Linked DNA regions of Homo sapiens: all the other regions are linked to region 1. The links come from fine-mapping of genetic effects on gene expression. A gene starts in region 1. Each other region holds a variant in brackets. All regions are shown on one strand. Distances are between the middles of the regions.

Evidence for each region.
Region 2: its variant is fine-mapped to the expression of GAK in whole blood (TOPMed, PIP above 0.99).
Region 3: its variant is fine-mapped to the expression of GAK in whole blood (TOPMed, PIP above 0.99). The same link has a PIP of 0.9 or more in esophagus muscle, gastroesophageal junction, sigmoid colon and tibial artery.
Region 4: its variant is fine-mapped to the expression of GAK in whole blood (TOPMed, PIP above 0.99). The same link has a PIP of 0.9 or more in B cells, monocytes, monocytes after interferon gamma and transverse colon.
Region 5: its variant is fine-mapped to the expression of GAK in skeletal muscle (FUSION, PIP 0.90).

What each region holds. Positions count from the first base shown.
Region 1 is chr4:929,883-934,980 of GRCh38, reverse strand. GAK (cyclin G associated kinase) reads left to right here and starts at 2,665. Exons shown (of 28, transcript NM_005255.4): 1 at 2,665-2,938. The coding sequence starts at 2,794. It overlaps TMEM175 (transmembrane protein 175), which reads right to left and starts at 2,521. Exons shown (of 11, transcript NM_032326.4): 1 at 2,441-2,521. RefSeq lists an enhancer at 2,080-2,399 and a silencer at 2,560-2,879.
Region 2 is chr4:881,541-886,638 of GRCh38, reverse strand. It overlaps GAK (cyclin G associated kinase), which reads left to right. Exons shown (of 28, transcript NM_005255.4): 12 at 2,553-2,602; 13 at 3,176-3,324; 14 at 3,820-3,942; 15 at 4,599-4,732. Among named protein-coding and RNA genes, the nearest start is that of GAK, 48 kb to the left of the region's middle. The variant A/G (reference allele first, on the strand shown) is at 2,718.
Region 3 is chr4:891,651-896,748 of GRCh38, reverse strand. GAK (cyclin G associated kinase) reads left to right here. Exons shown (of 28, transcript NM_005255.4): 7 at 200-289; 8 at 2,740-2,875; 9 at 3,260-3,372. Among named protein-coding and RNA genes, the nearest start is that of GAK, 38 kb to the left of the region's middle. The variant G/T (reference allele first, on the strand shown) is at 2,176.
Region 4 is chr4:846,829-851,926 of GRCh38, reverse strand. GAK (cyclin G associated kinase) reads left to right here. Exons shown (of 28, transcript NM_005255.4): 25 at 1-177; 26 at 843-991; 27 at 1,859-2,035; 28 at 2,153-2,650. The coding sequence ends at 2,254. Among named protein-coding and RNA genes, the nearest start is that of CPLX1, 23 kb to the right of the region's middle. The variant C/T (reference allele first, on the strand shown) is at 2,531.
Region 5 is chr4:853,944-859,041 of GRCh38, reverse strand. All of the region lies in intron 24 of GAK (cyclin G associated kinase), which reads left to right. Among named protein-coding and RNA genes, the nearest start is that of CPLX1, 30 kb to the right of the region's middle. The variant GTGA/A (reference allele first, on the strand shown) is at 2,713.

The DNA of each region.
Region 1 (5,098 bases):
GTTTTTCTTTCCTCATTCACAATGAAAACAGAAGTCATTAGAGAATTCCTTCACCTTCATTCCAATAAATACATAAGGTCACCTACAACTGCAGCCCATTTTTCTTCCTGAGTGTTTTTCCTATGTCCAAAGCAAATATCTCTACCTATGCTCTTGATGTCATTCCCCTCCTATGTTCTAAGAGATAGAAGATATCTCATTAAGATAGAATTATCTTATTATTCCTCTTTTTTCTGTACCAGCAAACCTTCTCTCCCTTCCATCCGCTTTAGGCTGCTCAAGAATCTCTCATCTTAAAACATCTCAATACTACATCACCCTTGTAGCTCCCTGGAGCTAAGGGTGCCGAATTTGTTGGCCTGAAGTTGTTCATATTCTCTTCCACAGACAAACATTTTGAGTTATCTCCACTTGCCATCTCTACCTCATCATCTCTTCATCCCTCTACGGTAATATGTAGCTTCCACCTCATTACTCCAATGAAGCTATTCTTGGTGAGGTCACCAATGATCCCTTGTGAATAAATCCAACACATATCTTCCATTTCTTTTTCTACTTGACTTTTAAGTGGCATTCGACACTCTTAGCTGCACTCTCTGCCCCGAACATCCTCGTTCCTTGGCTCTGTTACGACACTCTCTTGGTTTTCTTCCTCCTTCACTGACTGCTCTTTCTCCACAAACTGTCTATTCTCTGAAGATTCTAACCTCTTTATGTCTAGTACACCATCTCTGTTGGTCCTCTCTTCAGCTCCTAGAGCCAACTGCCACCTCTATGCTGAGGATGCCCAGATATCTGTCTCTAGCAGGGATTCTTTCCTGAGCTCTCTATCCTTCTATTCCACAGTCGACCAGACAAACGCACTGGCTGGAAAAGCCATGACTTGCGTTGAATTGCAGTTGTATCACTTGTTGGCCCTGGCCGAATAATGGCATTGTTGAGCATATTTTCTCATCCCAAAATAAAGGGGGTTAATTATACTGTGCTTTCTTCACAAAGATGTTTTCACTACAATGAACTATTACAGAAAAGGGTGTTGTAAGCAATAAATCAGTGCCTAAACTAAGCTATTGCTACTGTTATTTTTGTTATATATATTTTTAAAGATGTCATTTGGCTTCATGCAATACTTCATTCCATAACATAGATAAGTGTTCCAACGAGCTGAGGCTATTATCTTTTAATGATAAAGATAACAGATGTTAGCTTCTGGGACGGCTAAGAGGCTGATGTGAGCTTTAGAATCCATTTTTGAGTTGGAGAACAAATAACTCTGTTGAAGGGGTTGCAACCTTAAATGACTATAGGAACCAGGCAGGTAACATACATGAGCCCATCTGGTCAGGCAAATGACTGTGTCTTACCTCAAGGGACCACTCTAGGTAATTGGTAACACACATCATTTTGGGTCCAATATTGACAGGTTTGATTTTTCCACAGAAGCTGGAAAACTAGGTTTTTAACATTTAGGCCTTTCAATTATTATTATTATTATTATTTATTTTTTGAGGCGGAGTCTCAGGCTAGGGTACAGTGGCGCCCGCCTCCCGGGTTCAAGCGATTCTCCTGCCTCAGCCTCCCGAGTAGCTGGGATTACAGGCACCCGCCACCACGCTCGGCTAATTTTTGTATTTTTAGTAGAGACGGGGTTTCACCATGTTGACCAGGCTGGTCTGGAACTCCTGACCTCAGGTGATCCGCCTGCCTCGGCCTCCCAAAGCACTGGGATTACAGGTGTAAGCCACCGCGCCTGGCATCAGTCTTTAAATGATAGCAACTAATTCACCTCCTGCTACCCACTCCCAACCCCCAAATACTGTGTGGGCCAAAAACTAAAAATGCATTGTCTGTGAGCCATTTCCTTATTATCCTATAAGGAAAGTCACCATTTCATCTCCAAATAGTTGGGCATTACGAACCCTTCCAAGTGGTTCATGAGGATTTGCTTTTGCCTTGGAAAATGTCAGGGTGAGAACGAACCTTGAGGGTCACAGGGCAGTCTCTGCAGTGTTGTGGTTGCCCAGGACGAAGGTTTTTCTAGCCCACGGCTCCCACTACTGGTCACTGCCCCAGGCCAGACCCTGGCCCTCTCCTCGGAAGACAGAGCAATGCAGCAGCGTTTCCCCTGCAAACTGCCTGCCTGGCTGCTGGGAGGGGGCTGCCAACCTTACTCACTAAGCGTCACAGGAAACTCCGACCTCCATGAGACGAAAACCAAGTATTTACTGAAAGCTTAACGCACGCTAACTCCTTGCTCCTTAGCCAACTGAGAGAAAAATTCGCGAACCCATTCGCAAACGCGGCGCTAACAGCAAACGGGAGGCTGACTCCACCCAGAGGATGGCGAAGCGCTTAAACCGGAGACACCTGAGAAGGAGCCTCCCACAAAACAGACCATGTGGGGAACGGTACCGGGAGCTGGACTGGGGCGCTGAACTACCTGGGCGGGAATCGCCTCGGCGACTGTTCCGCGCGCCTCCGCTTGAGTCAGCCCGGCCGGGAGCTTGACAGCCGGAAGTTCATCGCAAGCCCGGCGACGCCGCGCACGCGCTGTCTCCGTCAGACCTCCGCGCCTGCGCGCGCAGCCAGGAAGTGAGGCCGCGGCGGAGGGGACGGGGCTAGGCCGGGTCGCCGCCTGACGCGACGCGTCCTCACGGGCGCCTACGTCACGGCGTCGAGGCGGAAGATGGTGCACCTCCGGGCCGGCGGTTGCTGAGCTGACCCGGACGGCGAGGGAGCGGGAGCCCGAGCCCGACCACTCCGGCTGCCGCGGGGTGCGGCGCAGCCACCGCCATGTCGCTGCTGCAGTCGGCGCTCGACTTCTTGGCGGGTCCAGGCTCCCTGGGCGGTGCTTCCGGCCGCGACCAGAGTGACTTCGTGGGGCAGACGGTGGAACTGGGCGAGCTGCGGCTGCGGGTGCGGCGGGTCCTGGCCGAAGGTGAGGCCCCGGGTCGGCAGCGCGGGTGCGGCCGCGGAGTGTTGTCTCCGGGACGCTGGGGGCAGCGTCAGCCCGGAGTGGAAGGGCGTGGGTTAGGGCTGGGGAGGGTCCCAGCGGGATCGTGGGTCAGGGTCGGCCAGGGGAGGGTCTCTGCCGAGGGCGTGGGTCAGGGCCAGGCGAAGGTCATAGCGCGGGCGTAGGTGAGTGCCTGCTGGCGGTGATTGCGGAGGGCGAGGCTGGGACCGGGTCGGGGTACTTTCTTGTCATAAGAGTAGGGTCAAGTCGGAGCAAGGCCTGGGGCTTGGGGAACCCCCTCAGGGTGGGTGGGGGAAGATGTTACGGTGAGGTGGGGGATGGTGGCAGGCAGGGAGCTTGGGTGGGGACCCACAGCGGAGACTGAGGGACGGTGCCTAGAAGGCCGACAGCTGGAGTCAGGAGGTGAGCGGTGCAGGAGGTGGGTTTAAGCCTTGGCCTTTTGCCGGACATCTGGGGTTATTGAGCAGGCAGGGACAGGACTGGACTTTGGAGGTTAGGGCTGGTTCTTCTACAGTCCAGGGAACTTGAGAGTTGGTGGGTGCACACGTGTTGCAGGTAGTTGCGGTTGTAGCCTGGGGGGTGGGGGGGTTGGCCGAGGGTAGACTGGGCTGTGTCTCGTGATCCCCCTTCGTCTTTCAACACCTCAGTGTTTCTCTTCCCGGTGAACATCTACTCGTGTGATTCCGTGTGTAGTACAGGAAGCAGAGCCAGTGGTTGTGACCTATATAGAACTTGCAGAGTGGACAGGTCACTCGGCTTAAGTCCTCTTGAGTCAGTCTTGAGTCAGTTTTGTCTCTGCATGCTATTTCTAGCTCCCTGGATGTCCTCTCCGTTCACACGGAATCGATCACCAGTGCCAGTGGGTCCCATTCTCTCTTGTGGATTTTCCTTACATTTTTTGTCCAGTGGTGCCTGGAGGTGTGTCATATTTCACTGGCTGTGAAGTTTATGGGCTAAACACAGTTGACTTGGGTGCGGAAGCGTAACTCTATTCTGCTGTATTGGCACAGGGAGAGGGAGTGAAGCGACACAAAAGCCCTCACCCTCACCAGCTCCCTGGTACCTCTCAGGGCTGGAGGGTTAGCCTGTCCAGGTGCCTGCTCTGTGACCAGACAGGAGACTATCCCAGAATTCTGATTATCACAAAAGGCCTGCGGAGACATTTTGACTGTAGCATTATCACACACTTTGTCTCCATTGTGGTCAAAACCAAACAGATTTTGGGTATGATTTGGTCAGAAAGTCTAAGCTCTTCTTTCAGAAGTGGGGGCTGAAGTGTGATATTCTTTCACATCAGTTGGAAGATTTCTCTCAGATCAAATCATTTATTCTGAAAATACTAGGTGGTTATCTTCATTCTTTAAGAAGTTTATTGTGGACAGGACTTGCTTTCTGGAACTTCAGACTTGTGCTCAAGGGGTGGAGAGACAGAGGCAGCACAGGGACAGATCCTTAGGGGTGGTACAGACAGTGTGAGCTTTGGGAAGGGGCCAAGCAGAAGATGGCACGGATCTTGGTGGGAGGGATGGAGAATGCACCCTCACTGGGGCCCGGAGAGGAAGATTCGTATAAAGAAAGAAGCTTGTGGGTCACTTAGCACCCAGGAAGAAGAACAAGGAAATGTGGGCAGCTGCTGAGGTTGTGCAAAAGAACTTGTTTCCCTTTGCTATCTAGGCAAGTCAGGAGATAAAAATAACCAATGCAATTAGGAGCTGTAGATTTCCTCCTTGTAAACTTAATAGGTGGCCTGCAGCCTCCTAAGTACTTTGAAGCCTCTTTGAACTGAAACAGAGTGTGAAAGCTGAATTAAGTATTTTATATAAACATACTTAATTAAGTTTTGTCTGAACAGCAACCTTAGAACATAGGCTATGGGAGTTTAGGCTGTCTTGTGTAAACATGGTGATGGCTGGTAATCTGAACCCTTGAGTACAGATGTTTACACTTCCAGAATTTTTCAGGTTTCAGAATGGTCATTGCAGCATATAACCTGTATATCGTGGGATACTCCCAGAAGACTTGGGAAAGTATTCTGTAATTGAATACATTAATATTTCTGTAATTAAATGAATAAATATTCTCACTGTGGGATAATTAAAGTCTGTAATTAACCCCATATCAGTT
Region 2 (5,098 bases), 48 kb after region 1:
CAGAGTGGAAACAAGACAGAGAGGATGCGGCAGCAAAGCCATAAGTGAAAGTCACTAGGAACGGTCACTTTCGGCATCAGTGAAAATGGTCTCCATGGCCGCAGCACATTGTGGGGACAGGCAGAGTGGAGTCAGCAGAGGGAGGAGGCATGTGGGGCGTTCAGGGAGCCGGGCACAGCTCCAGAGTCCTCCCTGGGGGACTCCAGGCCACGCTCCCTCCCCAGCAGCTGTGGGGATGGTGGGAGCTGCTGTCTGCTGGAAGCCTAAGGCCGCAGGGGCTGGTTCTAGAAATGGCTCTGCTGGGACCCATGGGTTCCAGGCCCTAGGAGGACACAGTTTGGCTTGAGCAGGCGCTGCTTGCATGGCACTCAGGCACAGCTAGCTGCTGCTTGTTAGGGGATGGTGGGAACCCTCCTGACACCCCCAGGTTCCAGCTGAGGGCAGCCCTGCTGTTTGTTTTGCTCTGCCTTCTGTTCACATCACGTGCTTGAGGCAGATGAAGCTGCATAACCTCGTGTTTGTAAAGTTGACTTAGAAGCAACAGTGAGTTCTGGTTGGGCCTGGAGGCTCAAAAGATGGCTGGGCACGGTGGCTCGTGTAATCCCAGCACTTCGGGGGGCCGAGGAGGGAGGATCACTTGAAGATTGAGACGAGCCTGGACAACACAACAACACAGCAAGACCCTGTCTCTACAAAAATAAAAAATTAGCTGGGCGAGGTGGCGTGCACCTGTGGTCCCAGCTACACTGGGGCCTGAGGTGGGAGGATCGCTTGAGCCCAGGAGGTTGAGGCTGCAGTGAGTTGTGATTGTGCCACTGCACTCTGGCCTGGAGTGAGCAAGACCCTGCCTCAATTTAAAAAATGAAAAAAAAAAAAGGACAGTGAATTCATTTGTGCTTCTGGCTCTCCCCCACGGACAAGCCCAGGAGTCAGGACCTGGGTGGCCATGAGCCCCTGGCTGCCCTGGTGCTTGCTGTTCTGAAGCCAGGGCCTCGGGGCCTGAGCCCTGTGTCTGGGCCCTGGTTTCTGTCCCGTCAGCATCCGGTGCAGCCCTAGCACACACACACCTGTGGTACACGTGCCTGAGGCCTACACAGCCAGGTCCATGGGGCCCCCGCAGGGCTGCTGGGGTGGGTGAGATGTGCGTGGATCCTGTGGCACTCAATGCCCACCTTTGCTTAAGGCGTGTCAGCTTGCTGTGCTTGCCGCTGCCTGCCGTGGTACAGGAGCAGTGGGGGTTTCACCATGTTGGTCAGGCTGGTCTCAAACTCCCAACCTCAGGTGATCTCTCTGCCTCGGCCTCCCAAAGTGCTGAGATTACAGGCATGAGCCACCGCACCTGGCCCCTATTTTTGTTTTTCTACCGGTGATTAGATTATAGGTCCAGTAGCCATGCTTTGTGTGGCCTGTTTGTCTCTTGCTGCAAAAGTGGCCAAGCGTCAGGCTCACCGTGCCTCCCCGTCTTCCCTTGTTGCTTTGGAAGACCCGCATCCTGTGTCAGCACCTGCTCGGTGGGTTTAGACGCCTTTTAAAACGTTTGAACGCACGGAAGACCCGCATCCTGAGTCAGCACCTGCTCGGTGGGTTTAGACGGCTTTTAAAACGTTTGAACGCACGGAAGACCCGCATCCTATGTCAGCACCTGCTCTGCGGGTTTAGACGGCTTTTAAAACGTTTGAACGCATGGTCACTTTCAGGCGATGGTTCGGTCGTGTGTATTTGGGTCATTCATCTCTCTGGACCTTTATCCAGGCTTTCCTCTGATGGGGACAGCACCTCTGCGATGTGCCTAGCTGAGGTTGCTCCTAGCCCAGCCTTTCTGGTCCCCGCAGCCTCCGGCCTGCTCTGTCCTGGGAGGGAGGCTCCCTTCTGCTCCTTCCCTCACAAGAACAGCTTGGCCATTCTTACACAGCTGCTGCTGCCAGTGAATTGTGGGATAAACCTGTCAGGGTCCTTGCAGAGTTATTGAGGGTTTTGATCTCTGTGTTACCGATTCCGTGGACCCAGTGTTGGGGGCAGTTGGTCTGTAGAGAGTTGGCTGTGGCCACAGCAGGGGCTTCTAGGCACTCAGGGCAGGGGGCCCTCTCTGCCTCCAGCGGCGTCTGCTGGAGTCGCACTGCTACAACCACCAGGCCTGGGCAGCGCGTGGAGCCTGGCATGACCCGTGACCATCGTCCAAGCCACCCTTGCTCTCCAGCCCTCCCCTTCCACCGGTGTTGCCATCCCTCTCCCAGCCCACTCCTGGGCCGTGCCTCCCTGGAGAGCGCAGGGGAAGGGGCAGTCAGACAGCGGATGTCTCTCCTGTCTCACCCATGCCTCCACCAGCTGCAGGCTGTCATTTCCATCCGTTTCTGATGTAGGGGTCAGCTCCACAGCACGCACACAGCCGGGAAGCTGCCCACACGCCTGTGCACACACACGTTCCTCCTGGGATGCGGCCTCTACAGTGAGAGCCCCACGGCTTCTCCAGGCCTCGGGCTCTGGCTTAAGCCCTGTGACCTAACTGCGGAGTGTTTCTTGTCATAACCAAGTTCTCTTCTTTTTAATTCCAGTTATGCAAAGGGTGACCTGGACATATCTTACATCACATCCAGAATTGCAGGTATGCGTGCCACATGAGGCTGTGGGACGCGCCCCGGCCCTTCCCTGTGTGCCCAGTGAGTCCCTGTTGTGTGTCAGGGCACAGGTGCCTCTGCTCCAGCCTTCTCTGTGGCCAC[A/G]GACTCACAGGGGTGACCTGGGGCCCCTTGGCAGGCAGGCGGCCTGTGCTCAGCACCTCCAGGCGCAGCAGTGGACAGGGTCAGCGCCAGCCTGGCCTCCCATGGCTCCCTGAGGTCATGCCAGGAACAACACAAGGCCGTGTCCGTGGAAAACCAGGGCCTCTGTGCACCAGGCATCCCAGTCACTCATCCCGACACCTGGAGACAGGGCAGGTGTCAGAAAGCTGTCTCAGGAAGTCCCAGCCACCGGCTGATGGGCGTGTGGCTGGGTCCATGCTCCTAGGTCCACCCAGGCTGGGAGTCCACGGAGGGTGAGGGGGCCGGCTGTGTGGGCAGTGGCTGGTGGAGCTGCCGGAGGCTGCGCTTGCCCGGGGGCGTCAGGAGCAGCGAGGCCGCAGCAGCAGCCTGGCCACGAGGTGCGCATCTCCCAGGTGCTGACGCAGGTCTGCTTGTTTCAGTGATGTCATTCCCAGCAGAAGGTGTGGAGTCAGCGCTCAAAAACAACATCGAAGATGTGCGGTTGTTCCTGGACTCCAAGCACCCAGGGCACTATGCCGTCTACAACCTGTCCCCGAGGACCTACCGGCCCTCCAGGTTCCACAACCGGGTGTGTGGCCACAGGCTTTGTCTTGGTGCCACTCTGGAGCTTCCTTCCGCTCCAGTGCAGGGGCATAGCTGAGGGCTTTGGCCAGGGTGGGGCTGTGATGGGGGCGGCCGGAGGTCTCCTGAGGGGCTGCAGAGCGTGGGACAGGAGGGGGCGAGGTGGGGTCTCTGTTGCTCTGAGGATGCCGCTTGCCGGGAACTCTGGAGGCCCCAGCTCCTCACTGCTTCCCACCAGCCAGAGGGTGCTCGAGGCCGAGGCATTCCTTCCAGACACGACACTTGTCAGTATGCAAAGGGACCCAAAGCCCAGGAACAGCTGACTGAGCTCTGTCTGCAAGGCCAGTGGCAGCCCTGGTGCTCAGGTCTCGCGCAGGTGGACGCCTGTTCATGACACCAGCTGGCGGAGGCCCCCGCACTGCAGGCAGGCTGTCCCTCCTAGCTGACCAAGGCTGGGGCGGGGCTCCTCTGCCGTCCGTGCCACCGTGCCCTGTCCCCACAGGTCTCCGAGTGTGGCTGGGCAGCACGGCGGGCCCCACACCTGCACACCCTGTACAACATCTGCAGGAACATGCACGCCTGGCTGCGGCAGGACCACAAGAACGTCTGCGTCGTGCACTGCATGGTGAGCTCGAGGGCCGTGGGCTGGCGCCGTCTTCTGTCAAAGTTCATTATTTCATGCATAGTTCAACAGGATCTGAGCGCCAGTCATGAGCTGGGGCCTGTTCTTCACCCTGGGACACGGAAGAAAGTCCCTGTGCTTGGTGTCTTTGGGTCTGGAGGGGACAGATGACAGATGGCCCCGCCCTTCCCTCCCCATGTGGCCCTTCCTGGCCTTGACCTGCATGCCCGTGTGGAGGCCACTCCGCTGTGTGGGGAGCCCACCTCCCCTCCTGCTCGGTGGCCACCTAAGAGTCACTTCCAGTTTCCCGATCTGCAGCTCGAGGCTTAGTGGTGCTTGAGCCTCCCAGGGTGTGGCAGCTGCCACTGTGGGTGATGGAGTTGAGGTTTCCATGAGGGGTCTTTTGCGGGGTACGGGGCACCAGCAGAGCCTGTTGGAGTGGCCCTAGCCCTGTTCTTCGTTAGGGAACCTTCAGTCTCTGTTGGGCTCCATTCTTGCCTCGGCAGGCACGTTATGTAGCTCCCTAAACATATCCCAGCTTCAGAGAGGAACAGCCCTGCGTCCCTGCAGCCACAGGGTGGGTAGGATGCCCGAGGACCCCGCGAGCCCTTGTCCTGCATGAGTGCGAGGCGCACGCGAGACGTGTCTGTCTGTCCTAGGACGGGAGAGCCGCGTCTGCTGTGGCCGTCTGCTCCTTCCTGTGCTTCTGCCGTCTCTTCAGCACCGCGGAGGCCGCCGTGTACATGTTCAGCATGAAGCGCTGCCCACCAGGCATCTGGCCATCCCACAAAAGGTACTGCGTGGCCCTCCGGGGACAGGGGACAGCTCTGTGGGCCCGTGTGGCACTGCCGCCCCCGCTGTGGTGTCTCCTGGAGGGCCAGTCGGTGCCGCTGCAGGCGCTGGTGGGAAAGGCAGGCCCGGCCTCGCGGAGCCATGGCTGAGCCCTGGGCTTACGGCCGCAGAGCCCGGGGAGGATGGGCCCTCAGCCGCGGTAGTCCTGACTGCTGTGGGGCAGCACCTGCCCAGCTTGTGCATGGATCCTAGGTTCTCTGACAAATGCCATGTATGTGGTGGGCTCTGGTGGATAATGCACGTGAAAATGCCGTGTGGAGCACCTGACACAGGTGCCGTGTGGAGCACCTGACGCTGCTCAGACATG
Region 3 (5,098 bases), 38 kb after region 1:
GGAGCGCGCTGAGGCCGAAGATGAGCAGCGGAGCTGGTGCATGGGGCCGACTGGCCTGAGGTCATCCCGGGGCATAGTGTGCGGGACAGGCTGCCCCTCAGTCTGCTGTGCATTTGGAAAGCTGCACGGAAGTGGTGCAACATAAAAAATACTGTTTGTGGGATGCAACTTTTCCTTTGAAATGTTTGTATTTTTTCAGATCACGAGGAATACAACACCAATGTATAGAACACCAGAAATCATAGACTTGTATTCCAACTTCCCGATCGGCGAGAAGCAGGATATCTGGGTGAGGTCTGGCGCCTCTCAGTGGCAGTGCCTGGCTCCGTGCGCCCTACTTAACCTGAGGCGGCGTGGGCCGGGCACCTGCCACTCGGAACTGGCCTGCCTCCTCCACCCCCTCTTCCCCTCCCGTCCCCTTTTCTTTTTCCTTTCCTTAAGAATCACTGTGGCTGCCACTGTTTTTTTGGGTTTTTTTGGAGACAGGGTCTTCCTCTGTCACCCAGGCTGGAGTGCAGTGGTGTGACCTCGGCTCAGGCTCACCGCAGCCTCCCGCCCCTGGGCTCAAGGGATCCTCCCACCTCAGCCTCCCGAGTAGCTGGGACCACAGGTGCTCACCACCATGCCCGGCTATTATTTTGTATTTTTGGTAGAAGGGGTGGTCTCACCATGTCGCCCAGGCCGGTCTCGAACTCCTGAGCTCAAGCGGTCCACCTGCCTCAGCCTCCCAAAGTGCTGCGATTACAGGCTTGAGCCACTGCACCCTGCCCAACCTTGACTACTTCTAATAGGGATGAGTCGAGTAGCAGTTGGGGGCGTCCTGTGCGGCTGGGTCTGCCTGAGGCTCCCCTCGGCCCCGTCCATGGCTTGTTGTGCATCTGGCCCTGAGTGCCTTGGCCCAGGAGTGTCCCTGCCACACCCCAGCCTTGCTGCGCTCAGAGCCAGGCCAGAGTGAGGGCTGAGCCTGATGGCTGGGGTGGTCTCCTGCGTCCTCCCTCATCCCTGCATCTCTCCAAGGCCATGTCCCCATTGACCGAGGGTGACCACGCGTGGAGGGTGTCCTGCCTTGTGGTTCTTTTGACGTCCCCTTACCCCGTCATTCAGCCACCAGGTGCGGCAGTTGGCCCTCCGTAGTGTATTTGCCTACGGACCGGGTCAGCCGTGCCATCAGCCACAGCACATGGGCTGAAGGCTGAGACAGCACGTGGGGCTGCAGGCTGAGACAGTATGTGGGCTGTAGGCTGAGGCCCTGTGTCCCTTGAGGAGTGTGGAAGGATGGGGCCACGTGTGTGGTCATTGCCTGTGTTCTTGGCCCACCCTGGTGACTGGTCCTCTGCACATCCCGCACGAGGACACTCCTGGCCGGCTCTTGCTCGGCCTGGGGTCCCGGTGTGAGCTCTTACTCTTGGCTGGATAAGATCCTGATGCCGAAGTAATCACCAGTCCCTTCTCTGGGCTCACATATTGGGTGATTGACGAGAAGTCGCTGATTGTTCAAGGCCAGTTCTGCGAAAATCCTGAGCAGACTGAGGAGGCTGCTTCCTGCAGCTTCTGCCCTGTGCCCTACACCCTGCATATGGGGTCAGTTCTGAAAAGTGGGTCTCTGCTGTTGCCAAGGACAGGACAGGTGCCTTGCCCCTCGCATAGCACACAGCAGGGTCTGTGCTGGTCCCACCAGCTCATAGATCTTCAGTGCATGAGTGTGGGAACCCCGGAATTTTGAAAGGAACCTTTATTTATTTATTTATTTATTTATTTATTTATTTATTTGAGACAGAGTCTCGCTTTGTTGCTAGGCTGGAGGGCAGTGGCGCGATCTCGGCGCACTGCAACCTCTGCCTCCCGGGTTCAAGCAGTTCTTTGCCTCAGCCTCCTGAGTAGCTGGGACTACAGGCATGCACCACCACGCCTGGCTAATTTTTGTATTTTTAGTAGAGACGGGATTTCACCATGTTGGCCAGGCTGGTCTTGAACTCCTGACCTTGTCATCCACCCGCCTCGGCCTCCCAAAGTGCTGGGATTACAGGCGTGAGCCACTGCGCCCGGCCTGAACGGAACTTTTTAATCTTAAGAGCCTAGAGTCCGTTTAACACTGTCACCTGGACAGTTCTTTGCGGTGAATAGAAGTGGAGCATCCAGGCCTCCCCGTGCCGTGGGAAGCACGCCGCCAGCTCC[G/T]CACAGTCAAGTGATGTTTGTGTAACCACCGACTATACCCCTAGGATCCCCAAGGAAGGAGCCACCCCTCGGCCAGTCACCATGTCTGCGGTGCTCCTCTCACGCCCTTGTCCCCTTGGGCTCGGGCATCACCCCTGCTCTCCCCTCAGACCTGGGAGTCACCCCTGCACTCCCCGCAGGCCCAGGAGTCACCCCTGCGCTCCCCACGGCTCCGACGTCACCCCTGCATTCCCCGCAGGCCTGGGTGTCACCCCTGCACTCCCCACAGGCCCAGGCGTCACCCCTGCGCTCCCCACGGCCCCAACGTCACCCCTGCGCTCCCCGCGGCCCGGGTGTCACCCCTGTTGTTCCCGCAGGCCCCGGTGTCACCCCTGCATTTCCCATGTTCCCGATATCACCCCTGTGTTCCCTGCAGTCCCCAGTGTCACCCCTGCGCTCCCCACGGCTCCGATGTCACCCCTGCATTCCCCGTGGGCCTGGGCATCACCCCTGCTCTCCCCGCAGGCCCAGGCGTCACCCCTGCGCTCCCCGTGGGCCTAGGCATCACCCCTGCTCTCCCCGCAGGCCCTGGGCTGCATCTTGTACCTGCTGTGCTTCCGGCAGCACCCTTTTGAGGATGGAGCGAAACTTCGAATAGTCAATGGGAAGTACTCGATCCCCCCGCACGACACGCAGTACACGGTCTTCCACAGCCTCATCCGTAAGTCCCGGTGGAATGCGTGCGTGGGGCAGGACCCTGGAGCACAGACCCCGCGTGGCTCTGGAGACCCCGCTCCCCTTGGGGCACTGCTCACCTGGCCCCACTCCCGCCCGTCACCATAGTTTTGACAACATCCCTGGGGGGGGGGTTTCCAGAGAGCTCCCCTGCCGCCCACCCCGCTGGTGAATTTGCGGTGCTCTGAGTGGTGATTTTTGATCATTTTGTTCGGTTTTTGTTCTTCCCTTTGCCGCTCCCTTCTTGCTTCTGACGTCACTGATGTGTGTAGAGGGAGTGGCCTCTGGTGGTCTGTGACCTCTGCCAGTGCAGGGGGTGCTGACCCGCCTGGGGAACCGTGGGGCCGAGCGCGCTGTGCTTCTGCTGCAGGCGCCATGCTGCAGGTGAACCCGGAGGAGCGGCTGTCCATCGCCGAGGTGGTGCACCAGCTGCAGGAGATCGCGGCCGCCCGCAACGTGAACCCCAAGTCTCCCATCACAGAGGTGAGGGAGGCACACGTGAGCCCCAAATCCCCCGCAGTGGTGAAGGAGGCACACATGAGCCCCAGATCCCCCGCAGAGGGGAGGGAGGCACATGTGAGCCCCAGATCCCCTGCAGAAGGGAGGGAGGCACACGTGAACCCTAAGTCTCCTATCACAGAGGGGAGGGAGGCACACGTGAGCCCCAGATCCCCCGCAGAGGGGAGGGAGGCACATGTGAACCCCAAGTCTCCTATCACAGAGGGGCGGGAGGCACACCTGAACCCCAAGTTTCCTATCACAGAGGGGAGGGAGGCACATGTGAGCCCCAAATCCCCCCACAGAGAGGAGGGTGGCATGTGGCTGTGCTGCTTCGTCCGGACCCTGCACCCTGGGGGTCTCTGCCCACTTCAGTGGGGAGCCACAAGCTCTTGAGGGCCCTGGGCTCCTGCAGGAGCAGGGTCACCACCGCAGCCCAGGGCCGAGACCCCGGGGGCATGCTGGGACCATTGCCAAGGTCTTCGCACTCTGCACGCGCTCCTCTGGCCTCCTTGAGGTTTGCAGGCGCCTTTCTAGATTCTTCCCCTGACAGGACAGCATGAATTGCTCCTGTGTCTTTGTTTCTGGGGTCTGGTGTCCAAGCCAGGTCAGCCAGCCCTCAGCTCTGGGCGTCCTGGGGTGTCCTGAGTTGCTCTGCGTCTGTGTTTCTGACCCTCAGCTCAGCTCTGGGCGTCCTGGTTGCAGTTGTGTCAGGGCTGGGCCTGGCCAGGGTCCACTCCCAGGCACCGGTGGCTGCTGGCAGCATCAGGGCCTGGGGGCTGGGAGACTGAGGCCCACAGGGCCGTGTGCTTTGTGGAAGTGTGAGGCCTGGGAGGGAGCAGCACGTGTTGGCTGGAAGATGCTTTCCTCAGAGTCTTTTCTGACCCAGCCGTGGACAGGGTGCAGCATCTCCATCACCAGATCCTCGAGGCAGAGCAGACACGCGGCCCGGCCCTCACCCACGGGGAGCAGGGAGGCCCCTGGGCATCCCAGCTCAGGGCCCAGTCAGGACACGCAGGGCCCCTCTGCAGATCTCGCAGGGGTCTGTGTCCAAGGACCCAGGACTCTTGGCTCCTGCATTTTGTCCCCTTTTCAGCCCTTGGGTCGTTTCCACTCCCTGGTAGCTGGAAGCCGGAACTTCCAGGGGCCACTGCAGTGGAGCTGACCCAGGCGGTGGGTGTGGAGCGTGGGGAGAAGGTCAGAGCTGCTGCCCGGAGTCCCTGTCTGAGGACAGGACCCTGTGGGACAAGGAAGGTTTGGGCTGTGTGGAGGGTTTGCAGTTCCTTGGGGGCCGCGTGGGTACAGAGACCTGGGAGCAGGGAAGTGCTGGGAAGCCCAGTGCAGACGGGGAGAGGCTGTGGTGCCCCTCTCTGGCGGCCATCATGGTGGGTGCACCAGCAGAGGGAGCCCTGGTGCTGGGTGCTGGAAGCATTTTGAGGTGTGGGGCGCTCTGAGGCGGGAGAGTTGATGTCACTGGTGGCCTCTCAGCAAGCTTCCCTGGGGCTGTCAGAGAGCGGCAGGAAGGGATCACTCCTGGGCCGTCCTGCTCTTTAGCAGCCTGGGCCTCGTGTCCCCCTCGCTTGGTGGCTCTTTACAGAAAATGCCTGCCCACTCCCCCGGAGGTCACAGAGGACAGTGGGCTCGCAGGGGGGTGTGGGCCTCTTGCTTTGTCGAGTGCGCTGGAGGGATTCTTGATGGGGCGGGAGGAGGT
Region 4 (5,098 bases), 83 kb after region 1:
CCACGCCCAAAGGCAGCAGCTCCTGGCAGACAAGTCGGCCGCCAGCCCAGGGCGCCTCATGGCCCCCTCAGGCCAAGCCGCCCCCCAAAGCCTGCACACAGCCAAGGCCTAACTATGCCTCGAACTTCAGTGTGATCGGGGCGCGGGAGGAGCGGGGGGTCCGCGCACCCAGCTTTGGTGAGTCCCCCACTCTCTGTTGCTGTGGAGTTTGCAGAGACCTCCCTGAATTGGCTAAAGGTAGAACCTATGTTGTTTTCTTCATCTCAGAGCCCAGTCCTGGGACAGGCACGGCCAAGCCACTCAGAGAACGACGCGGTTTCCGATGTGTGTTCACTGGTCTCTCTCTGGGTCAGGCCTCTGGGTCCCTCTTGTTCCAGTGACACCTTCTTGACCTGTTTTTAACAAATGGCCTTTGCAACCCTGTCTTGTCTTCCCTCTTCTTTACTCTGGAGGCATCAGGATGGTAGCCCTGTTCCCGGGGGCAGCAGGTGGAATTGGGCCTGTGTGTCTCTGCAGAAAGTTTCTGTTCTTAACTGGGCTTTGTGGCTCACGCCTATAATCCCAGCACTTTGGGAGGCTGAGGCGGACAGATCGCTGGAGCCCAGGAGTTCAAGACCAGCTTGGGCAACAGTGATACCTCCTCTCTACAAAAAATGTAAAAATTAGCCAGGCATGGTGGCGCATGCCTGTGGTCCCAGCTACTTGGGAGGCTGAGGCAAGAGGATCGCTTGAGGCCGGGAGGCAAAGGCTGCAGAGAGCTGAGATCACGCCATTGCACTCTGGCCTGGGTGACAGAGTGGAGACCCTGTCTCAAACAAAAAAAAGTTTCTGTTCTTTTCTAGCTCAAAAGCCAAAAGTCTCTGAGAACGACTTTGAAGATCTGTTGTCCAATCAAGGCTTCTCCTCCAGGTCTGACAAGAAAGGGCCAAAGACCATTGCAGAGATGAGGAAGCAGGACCTGGCTAAAGACACGGACCCACTCAAGCTGAAGGTGGGTGGGTGGGCAGCTCTTCCTGGGAGCCCAGAGGCCTCAACCCATGGCCCCTGGAGCATCTGCTGTGCCTTATGGAGCCGGCGTCTCCAGACAGCAACCTTTCACCCCTGGAGCATCTGCTGTACCACATGGAGCCGGCGTCTCCAGACAGGGACCTGTCACTGCCGATGGGCCTGGCAGCCCTCAAGGACAGGGTGGCCTGAGGCCAGGGGGGCAGGGCAGAGTCAGGCCCCAGGCTGTGCTGCTCCCCACGTGCCCAGATGGCTCAGCGCTGGTGGGGGTGGGGTGGGCGGGCGTTACAGGAGTGAGTGCCCCGGGGTGTTTGCAGAGACTGTTGAGGGCAGGCGTCTCTTGGGGGCTGCTCTGGGTACTGAGCCTCCCAACCCAGGACGCTCACTGGGGGGTGAGGATGCAGCGGTCAGGCTGTCACTGTGCCGGCCCTGAGACACGCCCTGCTCTGTGGCTTGGCCGATGCCCAGCTCTGCAGGCCACATGCGCCTGTGACCTTGGGGTCCTTTCACAGGCACCAGGGACCATCCCCTTCTCCCTCGGAGTCTGGGGCCTGGGATGGGCCAAGGGGTTGCACCACCAGAACCAGGGTTTGTGTCCTCGGTGAACATCTGGCTGAGACGAGGGTCCCTCTGGCCCCAGGCCCTGAAACATGAAGACCACCTGGCCCTGTGTCGTCCGGAGTGGGCTCTATATAGTTGAGGGCAGGGCGTGCAGTGGGACAGTGTCTGTGAGCCGGGCTGAGCCCACCCCACGTGACCAGGCACTTCCTCAGCGTCGTGCCTCAGTTTCCGCGGTGCAGAGGAGGAGGGCAGGCAGGTGCCCAGGGCTCGGCAAGCTCCGTGTCTCCCGCAGCTCCTGGACTGGATTGAGGGCAAGGAGCGGAACATCCGGGCCCTGCTGTCCACGCTGCACACAGTGCTGTGGGACGGGGAGAGCCGCTGGACGCCCGTGGGCATGGCCGACCTGGTGGCTCCGGAGCAAGTGAAGAAGCACTATCGCCGCGCGGTGCTGGCTGTGCACCCCGACAAGGTGAGCAGAGCTGCCAGGCGGCCGCTTGAGGCCTTCAGGGGCGGGGCGGGGGGGGGGTCCTGCCCCGCCCGCCCCCGCATGCTTATAAGAGGCGCTTACACCGCCTGTCACCCATAGGCTGCGGGGCAGCCGTACGAGCAGCACGCCAAGATGATCTTCATGGAGCTGAATGACGCCTGGTCGGAGTTTGAGAACCAGGGCTCCCGGCCCCTCTTCTGAGGCCGCAGTGGTGGTGGCTGCGCACACAGCTCCACAGGTTGGGAGCCGTCGTGGGACCTGGGTCCCCACCGTGAGGACCCCGTGGGCGACAGCAGGTGTGGCCAGGGTGGGGCTCCGAGCCCCGGGTCACCGCCCGCCCAGCGTTCCAGGCACATGAAGAGAAAGCATTCCAAAGCCTCTGATTGTTGTTTCCTTTTTCTCCTCCCGAAGGAACAGCTGATTCATGCTCCTCCCGCAATTGTCACGTCTGTGATTTATTTGGTGTTTCGGGCGTGG[C/T]CTCTGGAGCCCCGGCACGTGGTGGGCCACGCTGCTGGCGCTCATGGGCCCTGGTGTTTGCACCGCACTTTGTAATCAGTCCCGTGGTTGTCTGTACAGAATTAAACTATTTTCCGATGACTGCTGTGTCTCCAGTGTGGATCCACTCGCCCAGGTGCCGTTCACCAGCTGGGGCACAAGGCTGTGCTTCCTCAGCAACCTTGCCGTGGTTGGATTGTTGCAGGGGCCGAGTGGAGAGGAGAAGCGGGTCCCGGGGCTGCAGCGGCTCTGGGCAGCTCTTCAGGGGGCCATAGAGCCCAGCCAGGGCAAGGCCAAGGGCGGGGGCCCCTGCAGTCCCCAGACCCCCTTCCTCCCCTCGGCCCCGGGACTCCTCTCTCCTCTCCACTTGGCCCCTGCCCCTGGGCCCTGGACCTAGGAGCAAGGGTGGGCTCCACACTGCCCCTGTGCCATCCCCGCAGGGCCAAGGTGGCCTCCGGGCTGTCGGGCTGGTGGAGGACCAGGGGCCCCTGGAAGGAGAAGGTGACCATGGTGAGCCCCCACCCCACAGCAGACTCGAGGAGGCCCTGAATCATAGCCCTGAACTCACCGCCAGGCTCTTCCTGTTTTCAGAGAATAATGACTGCACGTTTGCTATGCACCCGCCACTATTTTTAGCTCTTTTAAAAAATAATGAGAAGCTAAATAGGTGCTGAGATTTTCACATCAAGGTCGTCTGGATTCCGGCTCCGGGTCTGGCCACCCCAACTCAGATGCTCCTGCTCTGGGGGCAGCTCGGGCCACGCTCCCTCTAGGCTCTCCAGCCTCAGCCCTGTGCTGTGCGGCCCCCTCCTCTCCTGCTGCCGCCCACGTCACACCCAAGCTCCAAACTAATCCCCCAGACCCCGCCCCAGACCCTTAACTCTGAAAGCTTGGGTCGCTTCTCCCCGGCCTGTGGCAAACCCAGCCACCCTGCCTGGACAAGTGAGTCCACCTCCCTCTGGCTGGCTGCACACCCTTCCTCCGTCAGGGGCCTGAGCCTCTGGTTATGTGTGGAGAGCAGCGGGTGGCCGGTCCAGGCTAGGCCGAGACTGCGGAGGATGGAGGAAGGTGTGGAGTGCAGCAGGTCACTGGTCCGGGGTAGGCTGAGATGGAGTGCATAGAATGGAGGCCAGGACGGTGGGGTCTGGGTTGCAGGACAGGAAAACCCCCATCCAGGCTGACCCAGCTCAGAAGGGAGTCTGTGGCCCCCACCTGGCCATGCTACCGCCAGAATTTCTCCTCTTCCAACCATTCAGCTCAGCATGGAGACACGCAGGTGCACAGGCATGTACAAGCCGTGCGCACACGCAGACGGCTACACAAGGTCACACACGGTGCCACCCAGACACCTGCGCACACGCAGACATGGCTGCACAGGGTCACGCACGGCGTTACCCGGACACCTGCGCACATGCAGACGGCTGCACAGGGTCACGCATGGCGCCACCCGGACACCTGCGCACACGCAGACACGGCTGCACAGGGTCACGCACGGCGCCACCCGGACACCCACACGTGAAAGGCCCAGGATGCACCATCTTCCCAGCCGGCCACTGGCCTGAGTGCTACCCACAGTCACTGAGGCTCCATTCTGCACGTGGGAGCCGGGTCTGCGGTCACCGAGCCTGTGACTATGCTCCGTCCTGCACGTGGACACAAGGTCATCCTTGCCGGGTTGTAATGCATAGACCACGTGAAGCTTGAAGAGAGACTGCACCTGTGTGACACCCCCTTGTGTGACAGCATCTTCTCGGTGACTTCACGGAGATACAAATGGCAGCGGCCAAGCAGCGATGCTCACATCACTGGTCCTGGAGGAAATGCAAGTTGGAGCCACAGCAAGATGCTGCCGCACCCACTAGGGCACCCAGTCAAGACCCACCAAGCCAAGTGTCCCCACGCATGTGGAGAAGCCCACACCCTCACGCAGTCTGGGTGGGAGCTTAAAATGGCACAACTGCTTTGGAAAACCGCTTGGCAGTCTTTTTTTTTTTTTTTTTTGAGACGGAGTCTCGCTCTGTCGCCCAGGCTGGAGTGCAGTGGCGGGATCTCGGCTCACTGCAAGCTCCGCCTCCCGGGTTCACGCCATTCTCCTGCCTCAGCCTCCCAAGTAGCTGGGACTACAGGCGCCCGCCACTACGCCCGGCTAATTTTTTGTATTTTTAGTAGAGACGGGGTTTCACCGTGTTAGCCGGGATGGTCTCGATCTCCTGACCTCGTGATCCACCCGCCTCGGCCTCCCAAAGTGCTGGGATTACAGGTGTGAGCCACCGCGCCCGGCCGGCAGTCTTTTAAAAAGCAAAATAGACGCCGGTGCGGTGGCTCACACCTGTAATCCCAACACTTCGGGAGGCGGAGGCGGAGGCAGGCGGATCACCTGAGGTCAGGAGTTGGAGACCAGCCTGACCAACATGGAGAAACCCCGTCTGTACTAAAAATACAAAATTAGCCGGGCATGGTGGCACACACCTGTAGTCCCAGCTACTCGGGAGGCTGAGGCAGGAGAATCGCTTGAACCTTGAGAGGCGGAGGTTGCAGTGAGCCGAGATC
Region 5 (5,098 bases), 76 kb after region 1:
GTGGCTTCTCAGAAGAAGCGTCGGCGGCGGGGGGATGATCATCTGAAGGGGCCTCCCTTGCACTTGCCTGGCCGTCGGGTGGAATGCTGGGTGGGAAGTGGCTCCACCTTGGGATGCTTGTTGGTGCCGGTGACCCCCGGACGCTCCAGCATGCAGCCCCAGGCTATGGCATCTGCTCCTGCTCAGCTCCGGGAGCATTTCCCGTCTCCTCATCGTTTCTCCTGTCCTTCCCTGAGTGCCTCAAATTCCTGTGAGCAGGTGTCGGCGTTGGATCTCTAGGGCTGGCTTCGAGTCCTCACTCTCTCCCGGGCTGGCTTTGAGTCCTCACTCTGCTCTTGCGAGCTCACATCTGAAGTGCCTTCTGTTCTGTCATGAAGTCCCAAGAGTTTTTTCGTCTTTGAATGTTCTTTTTATGTTTCAGGTGGTTTTGGGGATTTACTATGTCTTGAGGACATCCATGAGCGTTTCTGTCGGTGTGGTTTTGTATTTTATTTCCCTTTGTGGCCTCTGTCTTGTGTTGTCTGAGAGCACGGTGGGGTTGCGAGGGCCGTGCCCTCGGGAGGAGACCTGCGTGTGCCTTGACTGCCCTGGGCAGCCGGCACTGGGGCAGAAGGAGTGGACTCCCAGGGATCCCCGCCGTTTGTGTCCCAGACACAGCCCCAGCCCTCCGCCTGCTGGCTCGGTGGGCGGCCTGAAACCATCCTGCCTTCTAGGAAGACAGCAATTCTGGAAGAGCAAAGCCGATACAACTGAAGGAAAAAATAGACAAACCCAAATCATAGCTGGCGACGTCAGCACTGCTGTCCCGACACATGACGGAGCAGCTGTACTGAAGGCTGCAAGGATGTAGAAGGGCAGAGGCGCCAGCCAGCAGGGCCCACCAGCTGCAGGCACGGACCTTTCCATGCACCGTGGGAGCCTCCTCCACACAGGCCCTGTCCTCAGAGAACTAGGATTCTGCAGCATGCCGTCTGACCACAATGAAATAGAACGGAAGAATCTTCACACTTGGGAACAAAACAGCACACTTTCAAACGACACCTGGGCCAGAGAGGAGGTCTCAAGGGAGACGATGCGTGGAGCTGAGTGAAGATGCAAGTGCAGCCTAGGAAAGCCCAGGGCCCCATCAGGCAGTGTGGAGACACCCGCAGCCGTGGGGGCTTGCTGTGGAAAAGCTGGAATGCCCCAGCAGTAACCTGAGCTCTCTGCACAAGACATTTGGGGGGAAAAAAAGGGAGCGAAATAAGCCTACAGCAAGCGGAAGGAAAGAAAGAATGAGGAGCCACGGGCAGTGCAGTGGAACACAGGGACAGAGGCCAGTTCTGAAGCCCACAGACCTCTCCCGGGGCTGCTGGGAAGAGTGACCCAGGTCATCGATATGGGGGATGGTGCAGGAGGCACCACTGCAGACCCCGCAGGCTCTACGAGGGTCACGGGTGCAGGCGCCTCTGTGCAGTATGCTTGACGACTTACGTGAAATTGATAAATTCCTCAAAACCAGTTCCTGCCACAACTTACCCAATATCAAGTAGATCCTTTGAAAAATTCTATAAATACAAAGAAAATAAATTCATAATTAAAAACTTCCCAAAAAGGAAACCTGCGGACCCACCTGGGCCACTGGAGAATTTCACCGAATGTTGAAAGAGAATGCCAATTCCACCCTCTCACAGGAAGCAGGAGAGACGGAGCACTTTCTAATTGATTTTACGAAGCTCATACTATCACCCTGATACCAAAATCAGACAGAAACAGCACCGGAAAGGGAAACTGGGACTATATTCCCCATGAATATACACACAGATCCTCAACCAAACTTCAGCAAATAGGATTTATCGGTATATAAAGAGAATTCTACACCAAGATCAAGTAAGATTTATTCCAGGAATCCAAGGCTGACATTTCAGAATTGTTAACAAAATCTATTTAGGTTGCTGCGAAAGTAATTGTGGTTTTGCCATTGAAAGTAATCACAAAAACCGTAATTACTTTTGCACTAATCTGATATCATATTAACTGGCTGAAGAGTCATGTGGTCACATCAACAAGGCAGAAAAGGCATTTAACAAAATTCAGAAAGTCAGCACCTTTTATGGCAGCACTGTCAGCCAGTCATGAGCAGAACGTCGTCAGCTTGGTAACAAGCATGTCTAGAGACCCACAGCCAGGCCAGGCGGAGTGGCTCACACCGTAACCCCAGTGCTCTGGGAGGCCAACGTGGGAGGATTTCCTGAACCCAGGAGTTTGAAACCAGCTTGAGCAATATAGTGAGACCCCTGTAAGAATTAGCCAGCTGTGGTGGTGAGCAGCTGTGGTGAGCAGCTGTGGTGGTGAGCAAATGTGGGCAGCTGTGGTGAGCAGGTGTGAGCAGCTGTGGTGAGCTATGGTGAGCAGGTGTGAGCAGCTGTGGTGAGCAGGTGTGAGCACCTGTGGTGAGCAGCTGTGAGCACCTGTGGTGGTGAGCAGCTGTGGTGAGCAGCTGTGGTGGTGAGCAGGTGTGAGCAGCTGTGGTGGTGAGCAGGTGTGAGCAGCTGTGGTGGTGAGTAGGTGTGAGCAGCTGTGGTGGTGAGCAGCTGTGGTGAGCAGCTGTAGTGAGCAGCTGTGGTGAGCAGGTGTGAGCAGCTGTGGTGAGCAGCTGTGGTGGTGAGCAGGTGTGAGCAGCTGTGGTGAGCAGCTGTGGTGAGCAGGTGTGAGCAGGTGTGAGCAGCTGTG[GTGA/A]GCAGGTGTGAGCAGCTGTGGTGAGCAGGGGTGAGCAGCTGTGGTGAGGTGTGAGCAGTTGTGAGCAGCTGTGGTGAGCAGGTGTGAGCAGCTGTGGTGGTGAGCAGCTGTGGTGAGCAGGTGTGAGCAGCTGTGGTGAGCAGGTGTGAGCAGCTGTGGTGGTGAGCAGGTGTGGTGAGCAGCTGTGGTGAGCAGGTGTGGTCCCAGCTACTCAGCAAGCTGAGGTGGGAAGATCACTTGGATCGCTTGAGCCCAGGAGGTCAAGGCTGGCCTGAGCTATTATTGCATCACTGCACTCCAGTCTGGGCAGCAGAGCAAGACCCTGTCTCCAGAAACCTGCAGCCAACATCTTTTTTTTGTTTGTTTGTTTTGAGACAAGAGTCTTGCTCTGTTGCCCTGGCTGGAGTGCAGTGGCATAATCTTGGCTCACTGCAACCTCCACCTCCCAGTTTCAAGCAATTCTCCCGCCTCAGCCTCCTGAGTAGCTGGGATTACAGGCATGCACCACCATGCCCAGCTAATTTTTGTATTTTTAGTAGAGACATGGTTTCACCATGTTGGCCAGGCTGGTCTCAAACTCCTGATCTCAAGTGACCTCCCAAAGTGCTGGGATTACAGGTATGAGCCACCCTGCCTGGCCAAGCCAATATCATTTTTAACCATCCTCCTAAAATCAGGAACAGGGCAGGAGTGTCTTTTCTCCACTTGTACTTGTCGGAAGTCCCAGCTGCTGCCATTTGGCAAGAAAAGGAGATCAAAGTTACACGCACTACAAAGGGAGAAATAAAATTACTCCTGTCTGCAGATGACACGATTGTCTGCGCAGGGACTCTGAAGCAATCTACAAAGATCTTTTAGAACTATGAGTTCAGTAAGGTCGCAGGATACCAGGTCAACACACAAAAATCTGTCCTATTTCTGTTTACTTGCAATTATATAAGGAAGCCAACATTTAAAACAGTACCATTTACAATCACCTTTTTTTTTTTTAGAAAAAATAAACATTTAGGTATAAATCTGACCAGACATGTCTAGGGCTTGTGTGGTGGGACTACAAAACCAACCGTGGCGAAAGAGACCAGAGGAGATGCGAGTGAAGGGACGGACGCTGCACTCACGGCCTGGAGGCTCCCGAGTAAGGTGGCCGTTCTCCTGTGTGCATCTGTAGCCTAACGCAGTTCCTACCAACGCCTCAGCAGGGATTTTCCTAGATACAAATGAGCTTACTGTACAGTGTATTTGAAAGACAGATGGACTAGATGCCTGGAATAGTTTATTTTTTTGAGATGGAGCCTCGCTCTGTCGCCCAGGCTGGAGTGCAGTGGCCTGATCTCGGCTCACTGCAAGTTCCCTTACCGGGTTCACGCCATTCTCCTGCCTCAGCCTCCTGAGTAGCTGGGACTACAGGCACCCGCCACCACGCCCAGCTAATTTTTTGTATTTTTAGTAGAGATGGGGTTTCACCGTGTTAGTCAGGATGGTCTTGATCTCCTGACCTCGTGATCCGCCCGCCTCGGCCTCCCAAAGTGCTGGGATTACAGGCGTGAGCCACCGCACCCAGCCATGCCTGGAATATTTTTGTAATGGAAAAATGAAATGGGAGAAGTCACTGTTCCTGGCTTTGAGGCTTACTCTGAAGCCACAAATCAACATTGCGGCGATGGCAGACAGACGCGTCTGTGGAGAGAAGAGAGGACTCAGGCCACACAAGAGAGACCAGCGGAGCTTTGACAGAGGCAGAAAACCCGTTCATCAGATGGTCTGGAGCACCTGGGCAGCGGTAGGCAAAGCCCTAAGCCCTCGTTCTACAGAACAGCTCATCAGAATGCAGGGCCTTTAGGTGAAAACCTTTGTGGCCTGGGGCTGGGCAGAGTTCGTAGACTCGCCACCCAAACCACACCCATAAGAGGACAGGTGGACCCAACTTCAGAGCTCTGAGCATCTGAGCTGCGGACTGGGAGAAGATATTTCCAAACCACCTATTTGACAAAGGACTCATCTACAGAATATAAAAATACAGTCAAAAACAAACTGAAAGCAATCCAGTTAGAAAATGGGCGAGAGCGCAGGGTCCTCTGCCTACGAAAACCAGAGACCTTTGTTCACTTGTTTATCTGCTGACCTTCCCTCCACTATTGTCCTGTGACCCTGCCAAATCCCCCTCTGCGAGAAACACCCAAGAATGATCAATTAAAAAAAAAAAAAAAAGAAAGAAAATGGGCGAGAGACGGCCGGGCATGGTGGCTCATGCCTGTAATCCCAGCACTTTGGGAGGCTGAGGCAGGCGGATCACCTGAGGTCGGGAGTTCGCGACCAGCCTGACCAACATGGAGAAACCCTGTCTCTACTAAAAATACAAAAATTAGCTGGACGTGGTGGCACA